Homo sapiens: one gene and its partners. The protein of the gene in region 2 interacts with the protein of the main gene of each other region in a pairwise test. Each region holds a gene or a part of one and is shown on either strand. Other genes may lie near its edges.

Region 1 (3,500 bases), on a different chromosome or scaffold from region 2:
CAATACAAAATACTTGTTATTAAAAAGGGTCCTTGGGTGTGATGGGGTTAACTACTGATTTAGAGCATTTGAAATGCCAATATAAAAATACTGGAATGGGAAAACTCTTTTTGCATATTGCAAGGCAGAAAATAGCAGCAGTGTAGAGCCATTTAAACATAATTTCACAGCCATAACCAAATGCAAACATTTTTATAATATTGATATCTATTTAAGTCATGTTAAATCAAATGATATTCTTCAGTAAAGAGACAAGGACAAAGCTAAAATTTATTAGAAATTCTCCTGTTCTTCAAAGCAAACTCAAACAAACTGACATATACCTACTTTTAGATTTATGTAAAAAACAGATTCTTGGCTGGGTACGGGCATGGTGGCTCACGCCTGTAATCCCAGCACTTTGGGAGGCCAAGGCTGGAGGATCACTTGAGGTCAGGAGTTAGAGATCAGCCTGGCCAACACGGTGAAACTCTGTCCCTACTAAAAACACAAAAATTTGCTTCGTGTGGTGGCAGGCACCTGTAATCCCAGCTACTTGGGAGGCTGAGGCAGGAGAATCGCTTGAACCTGGGAGGCGGAGCTTGCATTGAGCCGAGATGGCGCCACTGCACTTCAGCCTGGGCCACAGACTGAGACTCTGTCTCAGAAAAACAAAATAAAACAAACAACACATTCTTGGTCCTACAGCTAGCACCTTGGCTTTGAAGGACATCGGACATCAACACCATCCTTGAGCTTTTGGGCTCTTACCTCTTTCAGGATGCCTGTGTGTTTTGATTTTGCTTTTAGGATTTTCTGAAATTCCTCAGATTCCAGATAGGCAAGTTGTTCTCTCCTTTTTTTCCTGGCAGGCTCCAATTCATCCTCAGCTAGGGCACAAGGAACAAACATTAGCAGCGACCAAGAAATTTCAGAAAGCCAGTGCGCCTCATCAACTCTACTCCCTCCCACTCCCTCCTCCTCTGCCTACCAGCCCTTCAAACTTGACCTACCCCCGCTGGTCCCAGCAGGGAAAAGCTCTCAGAGGTGAGCCAAGAAGCTGAGCCTAGAATGTGGGGTGGTGGCAGATTTTACCACTAAATAGAATCTCTTTTTCACCTTCAAATAGGCAGCTGACGATAGTAACAGATAACAACAGTGTAAATAATGTTGACAATTATGTTAAAATGATATTGCCAACTTCAGAGTTTTAAAAATAAAGATATGGCAATTTAAAACAAAGGAATTCTAGTTCTGTCAAAGTAAATCTTTATGCTAATATATATATGTACAAAGATCCAATGAGCAATCCTATTCCCAAGTATTCAAATTGTGCCCAATTTCATTCCAATTTAATGTAATTATAAAAAAATCAGTTCCAGCTCACGTCTGTAATCCCAGCACTTTGGGAGGTCAAGGCGGGCGGATCATGAGGTCAAGAGATCGAGGCCATCCTGGCCAACATGGTGAAACCCCATCTATACTAAAAATACAAAAAATTAGCTGGGCGTGGTGGCGCGCGCTTGTAGTCCCACTTACTCGTGAGGCTGAGGCAGGAGGATCGCTTGAACCCAGGAGGCAGAGGCTGTAGCGAGCCAAGACTGCGCCACTGCACTCTAGCCTGGCAACAGAGCAAGACTCCATGAAAAAAAAAAAAAAAATCAGTTCCACCCATAGAAATTCTATTTAGGTATTCTATATAGGAGGAAATGGAAGTAATTGCTTGATATCTGGGTGCTGGTTTGGGTTTAGAACATATTTCCCTTAGAAACAGTTTCTCTTTCCCACTGTTAACTGTGAAACTGCAGTACCTTGAGAAGAAAACATGGTGTTTTTTTCTACACGTTCCTTCACCTCCAGGATGTCCTGAGGGTCCTTTTGTTTCTTCTTAATGCTGTTTGGGTTTGTTTTTGTAAGAACCTGGCCTTTTGCCCTTAATTTGGTGATAGCAGCTAACTAGAAAAAAGGGAATGAGAGGGAGGTAAAGATCTAAAAGATGACAGAGGCACTTATAGACCTGGATCCCTTTTTTATTAGTAACCAGTGAATTCTGGCTGTTCTCTGACAGAAATTGGCAGAACATATCTTAATTTTACTTAGTATTATTAACACAATTACTAGAATATAATAGCATGGGAGACAGGTCTATATGTTGATGAATAAAATCTTAGTTTATTTAAATATAACAAGTTTGACATCAGCAAGACTGCAGGCTTCCAGATCCATAAAGGAGCCACATCACCATTTTGGAAGTTTTAGAATCAGAGAGAATTAAGATAAAGTTCCAGCCAGCTCTGCCACGGACTAGCTTGTAACCCAAGGAAAATTACTTAATTTTTCAAGTATAAAATGGAAATGGGGCTTGGCATGGTAGCTCATTGTAAACCCAGCACTTTGGGAGGCTGAAGCAGGTGGATTTCTTGAGCTCGGGAGTTTAAAACCAGCCTGAGCAACACAGTGAGACTTCATCTGGGCATGGTACAAAATTAGCTGGGCATGGTAGTGCATGCCTGTAGTCCCAGCTACTCAGGGGACTGAGATGGGAGGATCACCTGAGCCCAGGGAGATGGAGGTTTCAGTGAGCTGTGATTGCACCACTGTACACCAGCCTGGGAGACAGAGTGAGACCCTGTCTCAAAACAAACACACAAAAAAAGAGAAGGAAATGATGATATAGCATTGACCTACCTTTGAAGGTCATGGTTGTATGGATGAAATAAGATAATATCTGCAAAGTATGAATCTTTACATAGCAAATACATTCCTGGCCGGGCGCAGTGGCTCATGCCTGTAATCCCAGCACTTTGGGAGGCTGAGGCAGGTGGATCACTTGAGGTCAGGAGTTCGAAACCAGCCTGGCCAACATGGTGAAACCCTGTCTCTTCTAAAAATACAAAAATTAGTCAGGCATGGTGGTGGGCACCTGTAATCCCAGCAATTCGGGAGGCTGAGGCAAGAGAATTGATTGAACCCAGGAGGCAGAGGATGCAGTGAGGCGAGATCGGACTACTGTATTCCAGCCTGGGTGACAGAGCGAGACTCCATCTCAAAAAATATATATATAAATAAATAAATAAACATAGTAAATACATGGCACACACATATCACAAGTACTGAGTAATATGGACATGTGCCATGGTTATTGTAGGTATTCCTGTTGTTATTATTATAGGTAAGGTTTTGGCATACAGCAAGCTTTGCCCTTCATTTGGCTGCAGCTGCTAACTTAAGGGAAGAGAGAGGCTCGATTGGGGCACTCAGGAAGTGGGCAGGTGGGGCTCTGGGTGCCCTACCCCTACTTCAGCCGCAGCAACTCAGCTTTCACCTGTCATGGGACTGGACTTTTGTGTAAGATTTCTTTTAAAGGATTCTTGGTTAGGCACAGTGGCTCATGCCTGTAGTCCCAGCACTTTGGGAGGCTGAGGTGGGACTGCTTGAGTCCAGGAGTGCAAGACCAGCTTGGGCAGCAAAGGGAGGCCCCCATCTCTACAAAAAATACAAAAATTAGCCAAGGCGTGGTG
Region 2 (3,500 bases):
CATGAGGTCAGGAATTCGAGACCAGCTCGGCCAACATGGTGAAACCCCGTCTCTACTAAAAAGTAAAAAATTAGCTGGGCATGGTGGCGTGGGCCTGTAATCCCAGTTACTCAGGAGGCTGAGGCAGGAGAATTGTTGGAACCCAGGAGGCAAAGGTTGCAGTGAGCCGAGATCGCGCCATCCAGCCTGGGCGACAGAGCAAGTACTCAGTCTCAAAAAAAACACAAAACAACAAAAAAAAAAACTTGTAAGAATAGTACAAAAAATTCTCCAATACTCCCTCACTCGGCTGGCTTCACCACCTGTTTCCACTTTTCCCCTTTACCACAACCATTTTGTCATTTTCTCTCCCTCACTTCCTCCCTCCCTCCATATCATCTATCTACCCCTGCTCCTCTCCTTCTCCATTTGAAATCGGGTATCAGACTTTGTGCCCCTGTATCCCTAAATAGTTCAAAATGTATTCACTAAGCTCAAGGAGACAGTCACAGTACAACAAACTAGGGAAATTTGACATTTATACAATCCACCATTCAGATCAAATTCTGTCCATGGTGCCAACAATGTCCTTTACAGCTATCTTTTTCACCCCAGTCCAGTTTCCAATTCAGAGACAAGCACTGTACACGGTTTTCCTGTCCCTTTAAACCAGACCATTTTCTCAGTCTCTGTTTCTGAACTTTGAAGTCTTTGGAGTAGACACAGGCAGGGCGTTATGTAGAATGTCCCAGAGTCTGTCTGGTGTCTGCACAATTAGATTCAAGGGTGGCAGGAACACCTGGGTCAGGTGTGTCCTTGGCACATCTCATGGGGGGCACAGATGTCTCATAACTGGTGACAGTAACTGCAATCGCTTGGTTAGCATGGTGACTGCAGCAGGGTAGTCACCTTTATGTGAGTTTGAATTATGAGAAGTTTATTCATTTTTATTTTATTTTACTTTTTTGAGACAAGATCTTGCTCTGTTACCCAGGCTGGAGTGCGGTGGTGCATCCCCACTCACTGTAGCCTCCACTTCCCGTGCTCAAGTGATCCTCCTACCTCAGCTTCTCAAGTAGCTTGAACCACAGGCACATGCCACTGTGCCTAGCTAATTTTTCATTTTTTTTTGGTAGAGATGGGGTTTCAGTACATTGCCCAGGTTGGTCTCGAACTCCTGAACTCAAGAGATCCTCTCACCTCAGCCTCCCAAAGTTCTGGGATTACATGCATGTGCCACCGTGCCAGCCTGAGAATTTTAAGTGGTGAAAGTCTACAATGATAAGAGTCTTACTTTATGTGCACAGTTGGAAATAATAAAAATTCAGTAAGAATTTAAAATGTATCAAGAATTGCTTCGCTTTAAAGCTGTGCAACAGTGTACACTATCAAGTACAGTTTAAAACTTTTGCCACAGAGCAAGGCCTGGCTGGTCTTGAACTATGCAGGCTGTGGACTGTGTCCACTTCAGACCTGCCCCTGCAAACATCCTGCTTGACACAGTTTCCTGAGGAACCGTACCAGAAATCAGTACAGGCCATTAATGTAGATTGTGGGGTTCCGAAATTGGGCATCCACGTTTCTGTCCCTACCCAGAGTTGGGGAAAATCTCAGCCTGTCACTTACCTTCATTTGGGGCCTTGGAGAGCAGTGACAACGTTGCCTGAAGCAGGGAGCTAACTGGCCGGGCTGCAGCCCGCCCTCTGGAGTCCCTGCTGGTCATCCCAGGACCGTGGGTACTCAGTTTTACTCACTGGTCCACATGGAGACACGCGTCCCCAAGTCTGTTCAAGGCCCTGCCGCCTCTCCTGTGTTGGAGACCTGGCACGCTACCCACTTCTGCCTGCCTGGTTTTGTCCTCCTCCCGAGCATGGCTGGAAGTCCCAAGGCCACGTGGCCGGACAGTCCAGCACATCCCTCCTCAGGTCACTTGAGTACAGGACAGGCAGAGGCCTTCCAGATACAAGGAGCTCTCCCTGGGGTTGGGACAACCTACTCAAAATCTGCACCGAGCAGACTCTCCCTGTTGATTTTTAAATAATTAATAGCTGTTTACTACATTCCTATGCCCTTGAAACGAAAACTCCAAGTTAGTGAATATTGCACTATATTGACTGATGCTGGTTCTCATGTTTAGGGTCTGACACCACCCATGACTCTAAGGGGAACCTGGAGGTCCTCTTTGTGAATAGAGCTCCTGTGAGGTCCATCCTGGCGGGGGAGCCCACCACCCCTCTTTGTGTGGGGCCAGCAGAAGCTCGGGGCTTACTACTGTCCTAGTCCCAGGAACAGACTCATTTTTCTGAAATATTTTCTTTTCTTTTCTTTTTTTTTTTTTTGAGATGGAGTTTCACTCTCGTTGCCCAGGCTGGAATGCAATGGCGCGATCTCGGCTCACTGCAATCTCCACCTCGCAGGTTCAAGAGATTCTCCTGCCTCAGCCTATGGAGTAGCTGGGATTACAGGCATGTACCACCACACCTGGCTAATTTTGTATTTTTAGTAGAGATGGGGTTTTTCCACGTTGGTCAGGCTGGTCTTGAACTCTCAACCTCAGGTGATCTGCCTGCCTCGGCCTCCCAAAGTGCTGGGATTACAGGCGTGATTTTTTTTTTTTTTAGACGGAATCTCACTCTGGCGCCCATGGAGTGCAGTAGCGCAATCTTGGCTCACTGCAACCTCCGCCTCCCAGGATCAAGCGATTCTTCCATGTCAGCCTCTGGCGTAGCTGGGATTACAGGTGTGCCCCACCACACCTGGCTAATTTTTCTATTTTTGGTAGAGACGGGGATTCACCATGTTGGTCAGGCTGGTCTCAAATTCCTGACCTCAAGTGATCTGCCCGCCTCAATCTCCCAAAGTGCTGCGATTACAGGTATAAGCCACCTCGCCCGGCCCTGAAATGTTATTTCCATGGGCGCACACACGCACACAAAGCCACAAAAAGCAAAGCACAATTCATTAAGTCCTTAATACTCTTGCTTAAAAATGGAATTTGATTAGCTGGGCGCAGTGGTTCATACCTGTAATCCCAGCACTTTGGGAGGCTGAGGCAGGTGGATCATGAGGTCAGGAGACCGAGACCATCCTGGCTAACACGGTGAAACCCCGTCTCTACTAAAAATAGAAAAAATTAGCCGGGCATGGTGGCGGGCGCATGTAGTCCCAGCTACTCAGGAGGCTGAGGCAGGAGAATGGCGTGAACCTGGGAGGTGGAGCTTGCAGTGAGCGGAGATCGCCCACTACCACTCTAGCCTGGGTGACAGAGCGAGACTCCATCTCCAAAAAAAAAAAAAAAAAAAGGAATTTGATCAAGCAGTAAAGCTCAAGCAAAATTAAATTAAATTAAATTAAATGGAGTCATGCACATGCCTGTAGTCCCAGCTACTTGGGAGGCTGAGGTGGGAGAATGCTTGAACCCAGGAGTTCAAGTCAAGCCAGGCAACACAGTGAAACCCTGTCTCTAAAACATAAATAAATAAAATAAAAATGGGACTTTGAGCTAACAGTCCTCATACTGC
Region 3 (3,500 bases), on a different chromosome or scaffold from region 2:
TGATCACGGTTCACTTTATTCTACGGCTTGAATTACAAGCATTATTTTTTATAACAGGAAAAACTAAAGTTTTTCTTTTTTTTTTTGAGATGGAGTCTCACTCTTGCCAGGCTGGAGTGCAGTGTGGTGCGATCTCGGCTCACTGCAACCTCCGCCTCCTGGATTCAAGTGATTCTCCTGCCTCAGCCTCTCCTCTTGCGTATCTGGGACTATAGGCACACGCCACTGTGCCCAGCTAATTTTAGTAGAGACAGGGTTTCACCATGTTAGCCAGGATGGTCTCCATCTCCTGACCTCGTGATCTGCCCGCCTCGGCTTCCCAAAGTGCTGGGATTACAGGCGTGAGGCACCGCACCCGGCCACAACTAAAGATTTTTTAAAGGCTGTTACAACACTAGACCCTCTAAGGCTATCAGTGCTTCCCCCCAAACCACCATTTCGAGGGGGCATTCATATATATATATATATATATTTTTTTTTAGACAGGGTCTTGCTCTGTCACCCAGGCTGGAGTATAGTATCATGATCACAGCTCACTGCAGCCTCAACCTCCCAGGCTCAAGCAATCCTCCTACCTCAGCCTCCAGAGTAGCTGGGATGACGCCTTGCTAATTTTTTTTAATTTTTTTGTTTTGTTTTTGAGACAGTCCCACTCTTTTCCAGGCTGGAGTGCAGGGGCACAATCATGGCTCACTGCAGCCTCGACCTCCCAAGCTCAAGCGATCCTCCCACCTTTGCCCCCCGAGTAGCTGGAACTAAGGTGTGCACCACCACACCCAGCTAATTTTATTTTATTTTTTGTAGAGAAGGGGTCTCCCTATGTCGCCCAGGCTGGTCTCAAACTCCTGGGCTTGAGTGATCCTCCCACGTAGGCCTCCCAAAGTGTGGGATTACAGCCATGAGCCACTGCACCCAGCTTCTATATTTGTTTTTTTCTTTTTCTTTTTTTTTTTTGAGACAGAGTTTCACTTGTCACCCAGGCTGGAATGCAATGGCATGATCTTGGCTCACTGTAACTTCCGCCTCCTGGGTTCAAGCAATTCTGCTGCCTCAGCCTCCTGAGTCTGGGACTACAGGTGCACGCCACCACGCCTGGCTAATTTTTGTATTTTTAGTAGAGACAGGGTTTCACCATGTTGGCCAGGCTGGTCTCGAACTCCTGACCTCAGGTGATCCGCCCACCTCAGCCTCCCAAAGTGCTGGGATTACAGGTGTGAGCCACCACACCTGGCCCCAGCCTCTATATTTGATATAAAGTATACCGATTTCTGGGAGTAATAAGAGAATTGCTAGGAAATTGAGGGTTTCCCTTGCCTTCTGGAACTGAGGACGGATCCCACCATGGCCCCTTCCCCTGCCAATGGGCACAAGCAGGAAGCCCTGAGCAGCCCAGGCATCCGTTTTCTGCATGTGGCCACAGATCCTCATGGCCAATCTGCTATGGAGAGGAAGAACCTGCTTGTTTGCTCCAGGGATGACTCAAACAGTGAGAAGCAGCCGGTCCTGAGGACTGCTGGGCTCAGAGGCACTGCACCCCACTCAGGGTGAAGGGCACCTGTTTGTTTGTGGCTCCTGCTCACGTGAGGCTTGTCTGCCGGGGGTGACCCCAACTCCTGATGGAAAACTCTTCTGATCTCCAGTCTGAGAGCTGGGGGGTCAGGAACATCCAGAAGGGGCCTATTCTGCACATGACTTGATATCAAAAAGCTAAGAAGTTTAATGACTTTTTGGGGGTTGAGTCAGTGTCCCTGGAGTAAAAGTAGCTGCAAAACTGGTGCCTGAAGCTATCCTGGGGCTGCAGTCAGCCCAGCCCCCTGGAGCCCCGGGGCCTCCCCACTGAGGTCCAGTCCAGAACTCCACCTTCGCCTCAGCTCCTCCGCTTCTTCCTTGGCTCTGGCTAAAAATGCCCTGTCCAGAGCCTCGCCCAGCCCAGCAGCACAAGACTGCCCTCTCCTTCACCCCTGCTCTGGCCCCTCACCTCTTCCCCAGGGAGGCAGGCAAGCCCAGTGGCTCCACCATCTGCCAGCAATGGGACCTGATGGGGGACATGCTAACCTCTTTGCGCTTCAGTTTCCCCATCTTGAAAATGAGGACCACAACAGTGCCTCCTCACGGGATGGATCCGGAGGTTCCTCAACGTGGTTCATGCACAGCGGTGGGCAGGTGCCGGGCTCCCAGATCATGCTCAGCACATGGCAGACCCCAGACTCCACACCTGCCCCTTCTCCCCACGGGCCTCACGACCTGCCTTTGCCCCTTCACAGCCTGTTGTGGACATCTCTCCATGTCCACAGGCATGCCTCAGGCCCAGCATTGGGTATACTGCAGGCCCTGGGGACGGGCTATTTCTCCCTCTAGTCCAAAGTCCCTCAGTGTGTGGATCCCAGCGTCTGTAGGGTGGACTGAGGGAAGGCTATGGGACAGGGAGCTGGGAGGGCCCCTCCACTGCTACGTGGAGGTCTCCTGTTCTCCCAATTTGGTGGCCCATTTTTCCCATCTGTAAAATGGGCTCACTGATCCCTAAGCCTGCTCCTTGGGAGGAAACCTTACCGACCAGCAGAGGCTAGAACCAGCCCTCAGGAGTCATCCTGAAATGTAAGCAAATGACTGTCCCCACCAGAGCCCACACATACGGCTGGAGCCCTGCCTGGAAGAGGCTGGAGCTGTGCTTGTACCTGGCTGGATCCTGGCTGCATCCAGCAGTTCCTGGACTCTCCGGAGGATCTCGTGCTGCAGGCCAGCTTCTGAGACGCCCACCTGTGACAGTTCAAGGAAGTGCAGACTGTGGCCTGGGCGGGAGCCCGCTAAATGGTGTGAGCCACGTGGCACAGGCCCAGGCTCACAGGACCGTCGACACCTCCTGCTGGAAATGTGGAAGCCTTCCGGGGCCTGGCGGGGCCCACGGTCAGGATGAGGCAGTGCGGCACCATAGCTGTGAGGGCAACCTCCCCAGGCCTCAGCCCAACAATCAGTGTGGCAGGGGTTGGGGGGAAACTGAGGCCCAAAGGGAAACCAGCACTAGCAACAGCTATGGTTTAGCAACTGCTTCCCGGTGCCAGGCTTCACCTGCACACCTCAGCCACTTCCCCACCAGGTGGGGGAGGAGAGAAGCCTTGGAGGCCAAGCCACTAAGCAGCAGCAGCACACGAGCCCCACAGTCCCTCAGCCTCCAGAGCCTGAGCGGCATGGCCTTGTGACCCTCAGTGCCATCCAGTCCTCTTGGACCCTGGTGTCTGCATCTGTCCAGGGAGGGGCAGGAGAGTCTCATGAAAAAGAACACGAACTCTGGGGCCACACTGCTTGGGGTGGAGACCTCACTCTGCTGTGTGACCTTGGGCCAAGTTATTGCCTTACTGGGTCTCAACTGAAAGATGATGATAATGATATGTACCCTGCTGGGCTGTCGGGAGAATTCAGTGAGTTCGAATACAAAAAGTGCTTAAAATGGTGCCCCGCACGTGCAGGTGCTACAAAGTTAGCTGGCACAGCGATGAGTATTC
Region 4 (3,500 bases), on a different chromosome or scaffold from region 2:
GATCTAGGCGGGGCTTGATATTCAAAATGCTGAACAATACACAGTATTGAACCCACCTCCTGGGTTCATTAGAAGAGCTGCCCACCACAGCTTGGGAACAGGACCCTGGAGGCGCTGGCCTTGGTCAGCCACCCCCTTTAATTGGTCAATTGTGGTAAGGTCCAGGGGGTCCTTGAAGTGGGGCTTATGTGGCCAGGATGGCATCTGGGAAGGTCAGGGCAGCAGCTATTTATCAGTCAGTACAGAGTATGTAAATATTTTATTAATTATACAGCCATGATGGTACCTGCAGACTTTGTCAGTCATACTCACTAGGAATAGGTAGTGGCTACCTGAAGTACTGTATTGAGAAGAGTTCTAAAATTATATTCAGGCTCAGTGGGAAAACACAACAAAAATAGCACCATCAATTATTGCTTTCTGGCAAGGGTGGTGGAGGGGAGTGAGAAATTTCTGCCTAAGTGATGGATGAGGATCTGTGATTTCTGCCTGGGTGGTGGTGGGGAAACAAGGGCATGCATGCCACAAAGCTGCAATCCTAGTTAACAAGCCTGTTAGGATCATAAGAGAGACCTGTTAGCATTGTGGGAGAAGAGTCACCGAAAGAACAAGCAAGACTGAAGACACTGTAATGGGTTAAATAGCATCCTCCACATATTGATGTCCGCCCAGAAACTCAGAATGCGACCTAATTTGGAAATGGGGTCTTTGCAGATATCATTAGTTAAGGATGAAGATAAGATCATATTAGATTAGGGTGGGCCCTAAATCCAATAAGAGTGTTCTTATAAGCGACAAAAGAGGACCCACAGAGAGAGACACAGAGAAGGCTATGTGAAGATGGAAGCAGAGATTAGAGTTACGCTAACACAAACCAAGGAACTCTAAGTGCCAGGAGGAGCTGGAAGAGGCAGGGAAAGATACTCCTCTAGAGCTTTTGGAGGGAGTATGGCCCTACTGACGCCTTGATTTCAGACTTTAGGCCTCCAGAACTGTGAGTAAACACATTTCTGTTGTTTTGAAGCCACCAAGTTAGTGGTTCCTTGTTATAGTTTAGTTTCCCCAGGAAACTAAAATAGACTCAAATAAATATATTGCTAATGGTGGGATTTAGGCTAGTGAGGAGATTTATTAATTTTTGGGGGATCCTAGCACCTGTATCTTTCCCACATCATAACCTCCCATGATTGCGGCATAATTGATTTCTCTGTTATATTACACTAGAGTCCTTGTAGAGGGTGATGTTGAAATATGTCTTCAATGAATGAGCTGGAGATCTCCCTGTGCCCCACCCCCTTCAGCACCCCTCTCCCATCTCAAGGCAGACACTCCAGAGCACTGTGGCCAGAGTTATTCTGCCAGCATTTTCAGTAGGTGAGTTGGGGAACAGATCTCTTTCTTCCAAGACTTTAAGAACAGATGTGCCAAGGAAGAGGCTTGAGACTCTATCGAGACATATTTATAACCAATGGATGATTTAAAATCATCTCAAAGCTGTAATGAACAAAAAATTATTGGGGCAGTAACTATAATAATAATAATAATTATTATTACTATTGTTTTGAGACAGAGTCACACTCTGTCGCCTAGGCTGGAGTACAGTGGCATGATCTCAGCTCAATGCAACCTCCACCTCCTGGGTTCAAGAGATTCTCCTGCCTCAGCCTCCCGAGTAGCTGGGATTACAGGCACCCGCCAGCACACTTGGCTAATTTTTTTTTTTTGTATTTACAGTAGAGATGTGGTTTTGCCATGTTGGCCAGGCTGGTCTCGAACTCCTGGCCTTAAGTGATCTGCCCACCTTGGCCTCCCAAAGTACAGGCATGAGCCACAGTGCCCGGCCAGTAACTATAATTAAAATGTGTACCTGAAGTGTTAAACTCTCCGGCCAGTTGACTATTTGCAAATTGAAAATCTGCCCAAAGTGAACTCGGAAGTCTGCTCCTAGTGGCCGACTGACTGTCCTGGACACCTCCTTGTTGTTGAACAGCACTTTTAAGTACACTGAGCGCTTCTTTACATCCTCCCTTCTCGAGACCTCCGCTCTGCAAAAGGAGACCATTCACAGGTGGAGTTAGTAATAATTTACTAAGATCACCAAAATATATGATAAATAAGAACTGAACAGAACAAGACACACTGCAGGCAACTCTCCCAATCATGTCAGCCCTCATTTAACCAGAGGAGCCACAGGTCTTGCAGAGTAGTATGGAATTTATGGAGAAGCCATTAACAGACACTGAAAAGGGCACAGAGGATTTAAGAACTAGAGTCCATTCATTGTTGTGCTACAGTCTCCTCAGGTTTTTCAGGCAAGCTTTACATTTGTGTCCCAAAGTTTTAAATTCACATATTCCTTGTTAAATGGAATAAATTCAAGACAAAGGGGATAATAATGATTTATATTTGAGTAAGAAGTTTTATTCTAAAAATACAGCAGCATATTGTAGCAGTTAGATCGAGTTCATTTTTCCAAGATACCAAGTTTTTCTCAACATTTTCAGACAGTAAGTGAATGTTCAATGGATGCAGAGTATTAATAAATATTCCTTATTTTTAAAGATAATTTGAATCAGAAAGTTAAAAAAAAAAACAACCTCCCATTGGTCTTTAATTTTATTGTACATATGTGTATAGACATCCACCAAAAAATGCCAGTTATTGGTTAAGTCAATAGCAATTCAAGCTAATTGAGGAAAGGAAAAGGTTAGGGCATCAAAATTTGAAACAAGCTTAGGTTTTTTTTGGGGGAGGGGTGGTAGTTTATTAAAAATTGTTCCATTGTGGAAAATATATATAACATAACGTAATGTTTATCACTTTAACCATTTTTAAGTGTATGATTCAGTGGCATTACATACAATTACTATGTTGTCTAACCATCACCACTATCCACCTTCAGAGCTTCTTCATCATTCCAAACAGAAATTCTCTAGTAATTAAAGGGGGTGGTAGTTTTAACTTTTTACATGTCTATAATTTAGACTTATTCTAGATGAAATAGCTCAAATTACTTCAGCATTTTTTTAATAAAGGACACTTCACAGCAAATTTGCAAGAAGTATCCAAGACACTGAAGACTTAGACTCCACTCATAAAAGATTACCAAATCAAGCCCAAATTTTCCTTTTAGAAAGCATGCTGTGTCATCACATATTTTGAACATTCATGTCAAAATTAAAATTATAGGGTATGGTACTTGTGCCTTGAAAATTGCTTACTTAGTGCAGGGGAATAGTTTATGTATAATATCTTAATATGTGAAGTTGAGGGAACACATGAAAATGCACAAAAAGCTATAATTTTAAAATAAATCAATCATTAGAATAAATCAATCATTAGAACATTAGCAGAAGTTTGAAACCAAGACTGTGAGAAGTCTTATAATGACATCCTAATTAACTCCCACGTTTTAATGAACTCGGAGGCTGACTGACTTTATTTGAATTCTCATTTTTCACGTTGGGATATTGAAGATTCCAGTGTACAACAGTCCCTGT
Region 5 (3,500 bases), on a different chromosome or scaffold from region 2:
CCTCCTCTCGGGAACAAACTCTTCTTCCAAGGCAGTTGTCTGTATCTGTCACCTCACCATACAGGATGACAACAAATCCCAGGAAACAAAATGCATGAAACGTGCATGGTAGGATTTTGGGTGATTTTTGTTTCCTTCTTGTTTTATTATGTTTTTCCAATGGTGAACACATATTATTTGTTAAAAGTAATTTGTTACAGAAAAAAGGGGTGTGGGATGGGGAAAAGAGTGAGGAGTAAGCAAAGAAAAGATTCAGAAGAGAGACATGAACCAAAGGGAAGAGGAAATGGGCGCAGATGAAAACAACAGGATGTTAGAACTGACATATCTGATATACCCTAAAGCCTGATTCCTGATACACAGAAGGCACTTAAACATTAGCAGGGCTGAACTAAATATTCTCCCACAGCCACCCTCACCATTTTATAGACCATAAGCCCAGAGCCCACGTGGTAAAGGAACCTCCTGAGCCCACAGAGCTGGTTCCGACCAGCCAGGTCTAGCCCAGGGCTCTGCCCTCAGGGTCTGGTGTTTTGTCTCTCACTCCATATAGAGACAGAAGAATCCAGGGCCAGGCTCAGCACGTAGCCTTCCTCAAACGTGGTCAGCCAGCCATACCTCCTTAGCCAGCCGCCGAGCCTCATAGTAGGGCCGGGCTTTCTCGATGCAGCTCCCCAAGTGGGAACCCTGTGTATTCAGTTTCCTCGCCGACTCCTGTAGGATCCTCCGATAGGTGGTCCTGGCCTCCTGGAAAGGAACAAGGCAGAGGAAAGGCACATGTTTGGGTCCCAGCCCCTCTTGTTTCTCAGACACACCCCTCCCACCGCCACTGCCTCAATCTGGGAAAGAGACAGATGGAGATACTTCCAAGGACCAGCCCAAGCACATAAGGAAAAGGACACTCACATCCAGCTGTAGTTCCACCTGGTTGATCTCCTCGCTGGCCTGGTTCAGGTGCTCCAACTCCTCCTGCCACAGAGAGGGGTGGCAAATTAGTGCAGTGGAAGGAAGTAGCCTTGAATGAACCATGCAAGGCAGGAGCAACACAGAGAGAGAGAGCCCCACTTGCCCAGGGAAATGAGGTGAGACACTCAGGAAAGGAAAGAAGATACGGAGATTGCCAAAAGCTTTCTTGTCTATCAGGGACCTGATACATACAATCTCACGTAATCCTCACAACTCTACCTTGTATTGGGTAGTAAAACCCCAGTTTCAAGGATGAAGAAATTGAGGTTTGGAGAATGCAACACTAATATGCACAACGTGAAGTTGTGGTGAGCCCTCACTCTCTCCGTGAGATTGCAACACTTCCTCAAACTGAGGGAGTCTCCTTGGACCTGAAGGCTCGCTCTCTGCGAGAGGATGGCCACCTGGGCCAGGGCAGGGCCACTCAGTCAGCACATGTTTACTGCACACTTATCACCTCTCAGGACCGTGAGACCTGAGAATTCAGGACATAGAGGTGGCAGCCTGTAAGGAAACCCAGCAAGTCAGCAGCAGGTCCTGGGCAGTATGTGCAGCCTTGTGAGGGGTGGGTGTGGGTGCTCTCTGGGTAGCAAGGTCACCTAATTGGGCAGCAGAAGGTCAGGGTAGGATGCCTGGAACACTTGCTCAGCAGCTGGAAGGACTTCATAGACACAAAAGTGCCAGTGAATGACTAGGCAAGGTGGCTCACGCCTGTAATCCCAGCACTTTGGGAGGCCGAGGCAGGCAGATCACCTGAGGTCAGGAGTTTGAGACCAGCCTGGGCAACATGGTGAAACCCTGTCTCTACTAGAAATACAAAAATTAGCCGGGTGTGGCAGCGTGCACCTATAGTCCCAGCTACTTGGGAGGCTGAGGCAGGAGAATCACTTGAACCTGGGAGGCAGAGGCTGCAGTGAGCCAAGATCACACTACTGCACTCCAGCCTGGGCAACATAGCGAGACTCTGTCTCAAAAAAATAAAGTGCCAGTGAAGAACAAAGGGCCAAGGAACCAAAGGGGAGCAGGTACCCTGGGCAGACAAGTTGGCAGGTGAGAAGGTCAGTAAGGCTACAGCACTATGGGAGGTAGTACCAGGACTTTCTGCAATGGCAAAAGGGTCTCTCAGAGCCTGGTGCCAATGTAACGAAAGCCTGGGGGAGCCAGGGAGACAAAAGTGGAGGCTGGGACAGGCATGGTGGCTCACACCTGTAATCCCAGCACTTTGGGAGGCAGAGGTGGGCAGATCACTTGAGGCCAGGAGTTCAAGACCGGCCTGGCCAACATGGTGAAGCCCTGTCTCTAGCAAAAACACAAAAATTAGCTGGGCGTGGTGGCACACATCTATAATCCCAGCTACTTGGGAGGCCGAGGCACGAAAATGGCTTGAACCCGGGGGGCAGGGATTGCAGTAAGCCCAGATCGTGCCACTGCACTCCAGCCTAGGCGACACAGTGAGACTCCATCACAAAAACAAAAAACAAACAAAAAAAAAAAGGTGGAGGCTGTCTATAGTATTCCAGGTGGCAGAGGAGAGGGCAGATCCCAAGGCAACGCAGGACACAGAATCACAGGGGCTTGGTGGATGACTAAGGTCAAGATCAGGAAAGTGTATAGAGTCCAAGAAGCCTTTTGGCCTGCTTGGGCAATGGGTGACCATGACCGCAGGTCCCTATAGAGCAGATCCTGTGGGAGGGAGGGAGAGTCCTGGGGAAAAGTTGCTGGACAAGCTGGTTTGAGTGCCTTCCTGGCCCCTGGAAGGACTGGAGAGAGAAGCAATAGAACCATCCAGGGCTTTCCATGAAATGGAAGAGAGCTGAGAGGGGTACTGGCCTCAAGTCATCCTCCCTTGCCCGAGAAAACACAAAAGTTCCCAGAGCCCCTGGTGAGCTAAGGACACTACTGAGGAGCAGTGCTGGTCTGTGCCAAGGGCCTTGTGCCAGGAAATACCTGGTGCCTAGCTATAGGATTTGCCTTCACCAGCCCCTGCTGTCTCTGGACAGGAGGCTGGACAGGCCAGAGAGACCCAGCCCAGCATGTGCCTGCTGCCCAGACCCATGACTTGCACTTGGCAGTGACACCACAATCACTTCCCACTCATATGGCCGTGATGTTGGCCCCCACTCACCTCATTCGGGCCTTTCAGCAACCCAGTGAGGGAGTCAGGCTGACATGCACAATCTTCCTTTTAGTCCCTTCTACCTCTTCTATCCTCCCCCCATCCCCTGCCTTGATCCTGAAAAGATCTGGGTCAGCAGGTAAGAATACAGGAAATGGTTTGACATGTTAATTACAGTAACAGGAAGAACACAAAGGTAGAAACCTGTAATGGAACGAGGAATGAGGATATGAAAATGCACACACCTACCTACAACAGTGTAGACCCTGCCTAAGGAGGGCCACAAATCTGGCTCTAAACTAGGGATGTCCAATCTTTTTGCTTCCCTGGGACACACTGGAAGAAGAACTGTCCTGGGCCACACATAAAATACACTAACACTAACTACAGCTGATGAGCTTAAAAAAAAAAAAAAAAA
Region 6 (3,500 bases), on a different chromosome or scaffold from region 2:
AGTAGAGATGGGATTTCATCATATTGGTCAGGCTGGTCTCCTGACCTCAGGTGATCTGCCCGCCTCAGCCTCCCAAAGTGCTGGGATTACAGGTGTGAGCCGCCGCGCCCGCCCGGCCAACAATACTTTACATGAACCATGTGCACAGGAAGGAGGGCCCACAGCGCCCCCCAGAGGGCTTCCAGGAGCCTGCTGTGCACATCCTTTCCCGTCTCCACACTCAGTGTCCCCACACGGGTAGTTTGAAAGGAGCAAGGTGGAAGTATTTACGCCCTGGGAATGGGCATGTGCTAAATCTAGACATTTTGCCCCCTGGAGAGCAGCTGTTAAACATTTACCATGAAGCCACTTTACAGCACACTAGCAAAGAGTACGGACTATTGCACCAGACTGCCGGGTTCAAATCCCAGCTCTTCCACTTGCTAGCTGTGCAACCCTGGAAGGGTTACTTAACCTCTCTGTGCCTCAGGTTCCTCACTATTAACACAAGGATAATAATAGTATCTACCTCACAGGGTTGTAAACCCTCCACAGGAAGCTGCTGCTGTAATTATTATTTTTTTAAGGATGGGGTCTCACTACATTGCCCAGGCTGGTCTCCAACTCCTGGCCTCAAGCAATCCTCCCATCTTAGCCTCCCAAAGTGCTGGAATTACAGGCATGAGCCACCGGGCCCAGCCTGTAATTATTATTACTATCTCACTGCCCTTTCACAGCTCTGTGAGGTCAATTTTGTGATTATATCCTTGTTCTGCCAATGAGGAATGGGAGCCCCAGAGAAGTCAGATAACGTGCGCAAGATCACAAAGTAGCCGGCAAAGCTGGCACTGAGCCCTGGGCAGGGGCTTTCGGTGCAAGCGGCAAACCCGATCACGGCGCCACTCTGGGGTGGTTGAAGTTTCTGAGCCACAGCCCAGGCCAGAGAACATGGAGAAACAGGCGGGCTCCTGAAGGCAAGCCCCCACCAGCCTGCCGTCCTGTAGCTTATCATGAGAGGCAGGCTGTCTTGGCTATAGATGCGAGGGACTCAGCTGGAAAATTCTCACCCGCATTCCTGGCTTGAATTTAGGTAAAAGGCACAGCCCATCCTGAGCTCCAAGGCACATCACGGAGTTAACAAAATCTCCTAAACTTGGGGGAGGGAAGTCATCTTGTCTGGCTTCCTTGGTAACACCTGTCAGATGCTACAGGCCACGGCAGCCACGAAAAGTGGGTTCAGTGACATGTTTCACAAAGAAGGCAGCAGAGGCCCAGAGAGGGGAAGCCACTTGCCCAAAGTCACATAGCACTGGAGCTGAGACCCGGAGTATCTGCCCACCCAGATCTGGGTGTGAGCTCCTTTATCCCCCTGTCTCACACCCAGGCCCCTACACCCCGAGCCCCCCACAGCACCTACCGGAGCTGTTCCTCCCCCATGTAGTCAATGTCCAGAGGCTTCTTACGCTCGGAGAGGATGCGCACCTTCATCTCCCGCCCCGTCTGCCGCTTACCACGCTTCTGTTCTGCCTGAGGGTGGGGGAGGCGGAACAGTAAACTGGGGGCCACATCCCACAGAGCACTGCCGTGTCGGGACCCACACGTCGGATCCCACAGACCATTTCCATGTTGGGACCACAGGTCTGCACCCCAGGCCCATCTCCTTCAGACCTAGGAGTCCAGCCCCACTCCCTCCTCCCTCAGATTCAGGAGGAGTCCAGACCCCCAGTCCCTTCTCTTAGACTGAGTCCAAGCCCCAGACCCTCTCGCATTAGGAACCAGAAGTCTGGCCCCCAGCCCCTCCTCCCTCAGCCCAGGAGTCCAGACCCCAGCCCCTCCTCCCTCAGACCCAGGATTGCAGGCCCCGAGCCCCTCCTCCCTCAGACCCAGGAGTGCAGGCCCCCAGCCCCTCCTCCCTCAGACCCAGGAGTCCAGGCCCCCAGCCCCTCCTCTCAGACTGAGTCCAAGCCCCAGACCCTCTCGCATTAGGAACCAGAAGTCTGGCCCCCAGCCCCTCCTCCCTCAGACCCAGGCGTCCAGGCCCTCAGCCCCTCCTCCCTCAGCCCAGGAGTCCAGGACCCCAGCCCCTCCTCCCTCAGACCCAGGCGTCCAGACCCCAGCTCCTCCTCCCTCAGACCCAGGAGTTCAGGGCCCAGCCCCTCCTCCCTCAGACCCAGGAATCCAGGCCTCAGCCCCTCCTCCGTTAGGAACCAGAGGTCTGGCCCCCAGCCCCTGCCCCCTCAGAACTCAGACCTCAGGCTCCTGCAGGCTGACTCACCTTGACCAGGTAGCCGCCAAAATGGGCCCCCATGTTGGACAGCACCTTCTTTTTCTTGGCATCATCCTCTGCCCGCTTCTTGGCCTCTTCCTCTTCCTTCCTCATCTTCTCCTCCTGTGGGAAGTAAGGGGTTAACCTCATGGACTCCCCTGTAGGACTGAGGGAGGAGGGCCCTGGGATGTGGAACTGGGGCACAGGGATCAGCAGACCCAGTGCCGCAGAGGCTGCTGGGACATCAGAACCAGCAGAAACGCAGGGGTACCCACTCCCGGCCCTGCCACGTCTCCCCGTGTGACCACCTACAAGTCCCTTCCCCTCTGTTTTTTTTTTTTTTTGAGACGGACTCTCGCTCTGTTGCTCAGGCTGGAGTGCAGTGGTGCGATCTTGGCTCACTGCAACCTCCGCCTCCCGGGTTTAAGCAATTCTCCAGCCTCAGCCTCCTGAGTAGCTGGGATTACAGGCACCCGCCACCGCGCCCAACTAATTTTTGTATTTTTAGTGGAGACGCGGTTTCACCATGTTGGCCAGGCTGGTCTCAAACTACTGACCTCAAGTGATCCGCCTGCCTCGGCCTCCCGGAGTGCTGGGATTACAGGCGTGAGCCACCGCACCTGGCCCCCTTCTCTGGGTCTTAATATCCTCCCAGAAAAAATCGAAATGAAGGAGAAGAAGAAATGCCTGCTTTTTCTGCATGTCTCCACCCTGAAATAGCCGATAGTGAACTCTGCTGTACGACCTCACTCCAGATGCTCAGCCTGTCTGGGCCACAGTCGCCCTTAGTCTCAGGATATGAGAATGTCTGTTTTGAGGGGGTCAAGGGAAGTAACTGGTGATAAGACCAGGGACTGGGGAGATTAAAGAGGCTGATGGCCTTGAGCCTGAGGAAGGGGTTCTGGAATATTGAGCGAAGGCATTACGACATTCGAGAAACTCTTCATTGAATGTTCCAGAAACAGTGGTTTGTCCAGGCTGAGCCCCGTCTCCTTATGGTGGACATGAGGCTTTTTGTACACCCAGCACTCCGTACCTGAATTAGTTTCCTTTCTGTTTTTGAGATGGAGTCTCGCTCTGTCACTCAGGCTGGAGTGCAGTGGTGCAATCTCTGCTCTGTTCACTGCAACCCCCACCTCCTGGGTTCAAGTGATTCTCCTGCCTCGGCCTCCCAAGTAACTGGGATTACAGACATGTGCCACCATTACCAGCTAATTTTTGTATTTTTAGTACAAACAGGGTTTCACCATGTTGG
Region 7 (3,500 bases), on a different chromosome or scaffold from region 2:
CCAACTGCGGGGGCTGGGGAGGACCAAAAGGCAAAGCAAGACACCTGAAGTCCGAGCTCACCACCCAGTGAGCTGCAAAGGTCTTAGAGATCATCCATCCCTGCCCTTCATTTTACAGAGGGCGACCAAAGAGGGGAGGCTGTTTGCTCCAGTCCCCACTGCAAGTGAATGGCAGGATGTGGGGCCCTTGACAATTAGTCCACTGTTGGCTGGTGATCTGCTCATTCATTTATGGAAGCGATGGTGATGATGATGATGATAATTCACTCATTCATTCATCAATTCAACCAATGTTTATTGAGCCCTTCCTGCTGGGCATTGGAGTGGCTTTTGCTAAACCCTATTGTCTCATTCATCAATTTATTCATTCATATATTCTAGAAGATGTTTAATGGGCATCCACAGCCTGCCTGGTTTTCTCAGACCCCCGGCTCCTCACGTGGATGCCACGAGGCAGCACCATTGCAAACACTCCTGCACTGGGAAAAGCCGCCCTCTGGCTTCTGCAGCTCTGCTACTAACTACAACTAGGCTTTTTAATTAACCTGGGATGTTAATCCAAAGCCCAAGCAGGCCGGTCCAGTTCAACAGGAAGGACACACGTGAGGGCCTCCAGTTCTTGGGTCGGGGCTCATTTCGTCAGAGAGGCATTGTGGCATCAGGGTGTGGCACGCAGGCTCTGGAGCCCGACCACACGGGGTGCAGACCAGGCTCTGCCCTGCAGCCTTGGGCAGGCCACCCACTGCGTCCATTTGATCATCTGCAGAATGAGGAAGCGACAACACCCTCCTGTGTCGGTCAGAATGTGCTAACCCTTGCTGGGATAAGAAGCAGCAGTCTCAGTGGCTTAAACAGAAAGTTGATGTTCCATGCATGCTCCCTGCCCGCCATGGACAGGCTGTGAGGCCTGTTCCTTGGCATCCTCACTTTGGAGCCCAGGTCCTGGGATGGAGCGACCGCCAGCCAGAGGATCCCTGCAGGAGGAGGGAAGGAATGTGGCTAGTCCCCGCAGGCTTCCTCCCAGGAGCAGTACTGCCACCTCTGCTCACATTTCTTTTTTCTTTTTTTTTTTTTTTTTTGAGGTGGAGTCTTGTTCTCTTGCCCAGCCTGGAGTGTGTAGTGGCGCGATCTTGGCTCACTACAAGCTCTGCCTCCCGGGTTCACACCATTCTCCTGCCTCAGCCTCCCAAGTAGCTGGGATTACAGGCCTCTACCACCACGCCCAGCTAATTTTTCTATTTTTAGTAAAGATGGGGTTTCACCATGTTGGCCAGGCTGGTCTTGAACTCCTGACCTTGTGATTTGCCCACTTTGGCCTCCCAAAGTAAGAACAGTGTTGAATCACTTGAACCTGGGAGGCAGAGGTTGCAGTGAGCCGAGATTGTGCCACTGCACTCCAGCCTGGGTGACAGAGCGAGACTCCGTCTCAAAAAAACAAACAAACAAACAAACAAAAAAAAACGGGTGTAGGGGCTTGGAAGGATGAGCTGACTTCCTTAGGGAGTACTCAGTGGCAAGTCCGGTATTGAAGTTGGGCCTGTCTAACTACAAAGCTTGTACTGTGTGACTCAATCAAGCTGGCCTCTGGTGAGCACATGTGGGAGGCCGGCTCCTTGCAAACTGCCCTGTCCATGTGTTACTGAGGACAACTGTAAACCCAAGTACATGTCTCCTAAGCCATCTCCTGACTTTACAGAGAAATGACTGCAGCCCAGAGAGGGGAGGTGACTTGGTATAGGCCACATAGCCAGGGAACCCCCAGGGAATCAAACAGAAATGAGACCTGGAATTACTTTGTACTGGGGGCTGCAGCTCAGGACCACTGAAGTGACAGTGCATTTTCTACCACTGTTGTCAATCACTCTGTTGAGCGTTCTTTGCAGCCCACAGATGTCCAAGGGTTGCCAGGGGCATAGAGCCCTGCCTTGGGTGGGACCAGGCCCACGCGGGGTGTCGGCCTAATCCAAGGAGGGAGTTCCCTGCCTTGGTAAGTTGGTGCAAGACCCGGAGCTCTTATGCATACACCCAACAGGTGGTGATCCCCCGAGTCCAGCCCACCCGCCCAGCAGTGCGCAGGCAGCCAGGGGTTCAAGGACCCACCCACATCCGTGCCTGACAAGTCTCCCCTCCACCCGACTCCTGCTGCCCTTAGCATATCCTCCCCTCGAGGGCCCCCAGTGAGATTTGCTGGCCTGGGTGTCAGAATGCCCCTGGGGTCACTCGGACCATCTTCTTTAATGTCTTCACCTGCTTAGGCCATCGAGTCAGTGGAAAGGAAAAAGCAAGAGAAAAAGCAAGAACAAGAGGACAACTTGGCCGAGATCACCAACCTCCTGCGTGGGGACCTGCTCTCCGAGAACCCGCAGCAGGCAGCCAGCTCCTTCGGGCCCCACCGCGTGGTCCCTGACCGCTGGAAGGGCATGACCCAGGAGCAGCTGGAGCAGATCCGCCTAGTCCAGAAGCAGCAAATCCAGGAGAAGCTGGTGACTGCCCCGCCCCTTTTTCCAGAGCCCATAGAGCCAGGCTCTTTGCTCCCACTGCCTTCCAGGCACAAATGTAGTTGTAGCAGGCCTTGTGCTCTGCCCTAGCACCTGCCCTCAAGGAGTTTCCCTTCTAGTCGGTGGGAGACAAGAGCCAGATAGTGTCACACCCGTATGATGTGGCATTAGGAGTAGGAGTGCCAAGATAGAGGACAGTAGAATGGGAAGACATTGAAGCAAAGACCCAAAAGAGGGTAGGGAGGGAGCCATGTGTCTACCTGGGAAAAGGGCGACCGGGCAGGGTGAGCTGCAAGGGCAAAGGCCTTGAGGCAGGACCCTGCCAGACCTGCTCAGAGAAGGGCGTGGAGCCTGGTGACTAGAGTGGAGTGAGGAGAGGGGCAGGTACGGAGGCCTCAGAGGCAGACGGTCGAGGTCCTGGCAGTCCACTGGGGAGGACTTTGGCTTCTTCTGTGACGGAGACGGGGAACTCTGCAGGGTTTTGGACAGAGAAGTGACAGGATCTGACTTAGGTTGAACAGGATCCCCAGCGTGATCCCCCTGGATTGAGGGCAGACACTAGGGGCTGAGGGGGAAGGAAGGAGATCTCCAGGAAGGCCTTTGCAGTGTTCACAGCGAGAGGTGATGCTGGCTGGGACCACGGGGCAGGCAGTGGGGGTGCTGAGCAATGGTCAGATTCTGGATCTGTTTTGAAGGTAGAGTCGACAGGATTGGATGCATGATTGGGTGGGGACGTGTGAAAGAGAGGAGTTAAAGGCGACTCTAGGTCCTGTGGCCTGAGCAACTAGAGGGATGGAATTGGCATTTCCAGAGATGGGGAAGGTGGTGGGAGGAGCAGGTTGGTGGGTGGGGAGGGGTGGAAATCAGAGTTACAATTTTGGATACGTCAAGTGTGCAAAGTCCATTAGATATCTGTATCTATTAGGATTACATTTGCCTGAATGTGGCAGAAAACCACACATAACAGCATCTTAAACAAAATAGAACTTTCTCTCTTGCAAG

What was found.
Region 1: the proteins of NINL (region 2) and MCM10 interact in a two-hybrid assay, tested with the Homo sapiens proteins (one large-scale study listed by BioGRID and IntAct).
Region 3: the proteins of NINL (region 2) and LRSAM1 interact in a two-hybrid assay, tested with the Homo sapiens proteins (one large-scale study listed by BioGRID and IntAct).
Region 4: the proteins of NINL (region 2) and CC2D2A interact in a two-hybrid assay, tested with the Homo sapiens proteins (one large-scale study listed by BioGRID).
Region 5: the proteins of NINL (region 2) and SH3BP5L interact in a two-hybrid assay, tested with the Homo sapiens proteins (one large-scale study listed by BioGRID and IntAct).
Region 6: the proteins of NINL (region 2) and TNNT1 interact in a two-hybrid assay, tested with the Homo sapiens proteins (one large-scale study listed by BioGRID and IntAct).
Region 7: the proteins of NINL (region 2) and RIBC2 interact in a two-hybrid assay, tested with the Homo sapiens proteins (one large-scale study listed by BioGRID and IntAct).

The regions. Positions count from the first base shown.
Region 1 is NC_000010.11:13,196,058-13,199,557, reverse strand, and holds part of MCM10 (protein MCM10 homolog), read right to left. Parts: intron 1,936-3,500; coding exon 1,791-1,935; intron 870-1,790; coding exon 751-869; intron 1-750. UniProt on the Homo sapiens protein: Acts as a replication initiation factor that brings together the MCM2-7 helicase and the DNA polymerase alpha/primase complex in order to initiate DNA replication. Additionally, plays a role in preventing DNA damage during replication.
Region 2 is NC_000020.11:25,575,532-25,579,031, forward strand, and holds part of NINL (ninein-like protein), read right to left. Parts: intron 1-3,500. UniProt on the Homo sapiens protein: Involved in the microtubule organization in interphase cells. Overexpression induces the fragmentation of the Golgi, and causes lysosomes to disperse toward the cell periphery; it also interferes with mitotic spindle assembly.
Region 3 is NC_000009.12:127,496,510-127,500,009, reverse strand, and holds part of LRSAM1 (E3 ubiquitin-protein ligase LRSAM1), read right to left. Parts: intron 2,758-3,500; coding exon 2,676-2,757; intron 1-2,675.
Region 4 is NC_000004.12:15,539,382-15,542,881, reverse strand, and holds part of CC2D2A (coiled-coil and C2 domain-containing protein 2A), read right to left. Parts: intron 2,046-3,500; coding exon 1,868-2,045; intron 1-1,867. UniProt on the Homo sapiens protein: Component of the tectonic-like complex, a complex localized at the transition zone of primary cilia and acting as a barrier that prevents diffusion of transmembrane proteins between the cilia and plasma membranes.
Region 5 is NC_000001.11:248,815,916-248,819,415, forward strand, and holds part of SH3BP5L (SH3 domain-binding protein 5-like), read right to left. Parts: intron 970-3,500; coding exon 907-969; intron 748-906; coding exon 619-747; intron 1-618. UniProt on the Homo sapiens protein: Functions as a guanine nucleotide exchange factor (GEF) for RAB11A.
Region 6 is NC_000019.10:55,135,707-55,139,206, forward strand, and holds part of TNNT1 (troponin T, slow skeletal muscle), read right to left. Parts: intron 2,369-3,500; coding exon 2,255-2,368; intron 1,507-2,254; coding exon 1,397-1,506; intron 1-1,396. UniProt on the Homo sapiens protein: Troponin T is the tropomyosin-binding subunit of troponin, the thin filament regulatory complex which confers calcium-sensitivity to striated muscle actomyosin ATPase activity.
Region 7 is NC_000022.11:45,423,693-45,427,192, forward strand, and holds part of RIBC2 (RIB43A-like with coiled-coils protein 2), read left to right. Parts: intron 1-2,255; coding exon 2,256-2,483; intron 2,484-3,500. UniProt on the Homo sapiens protein: Microtubule inner protein (MIP) part of the dynein-decorated doublet microtubules (DMTs) in cilia axoneme, which is required for motile cilia beating.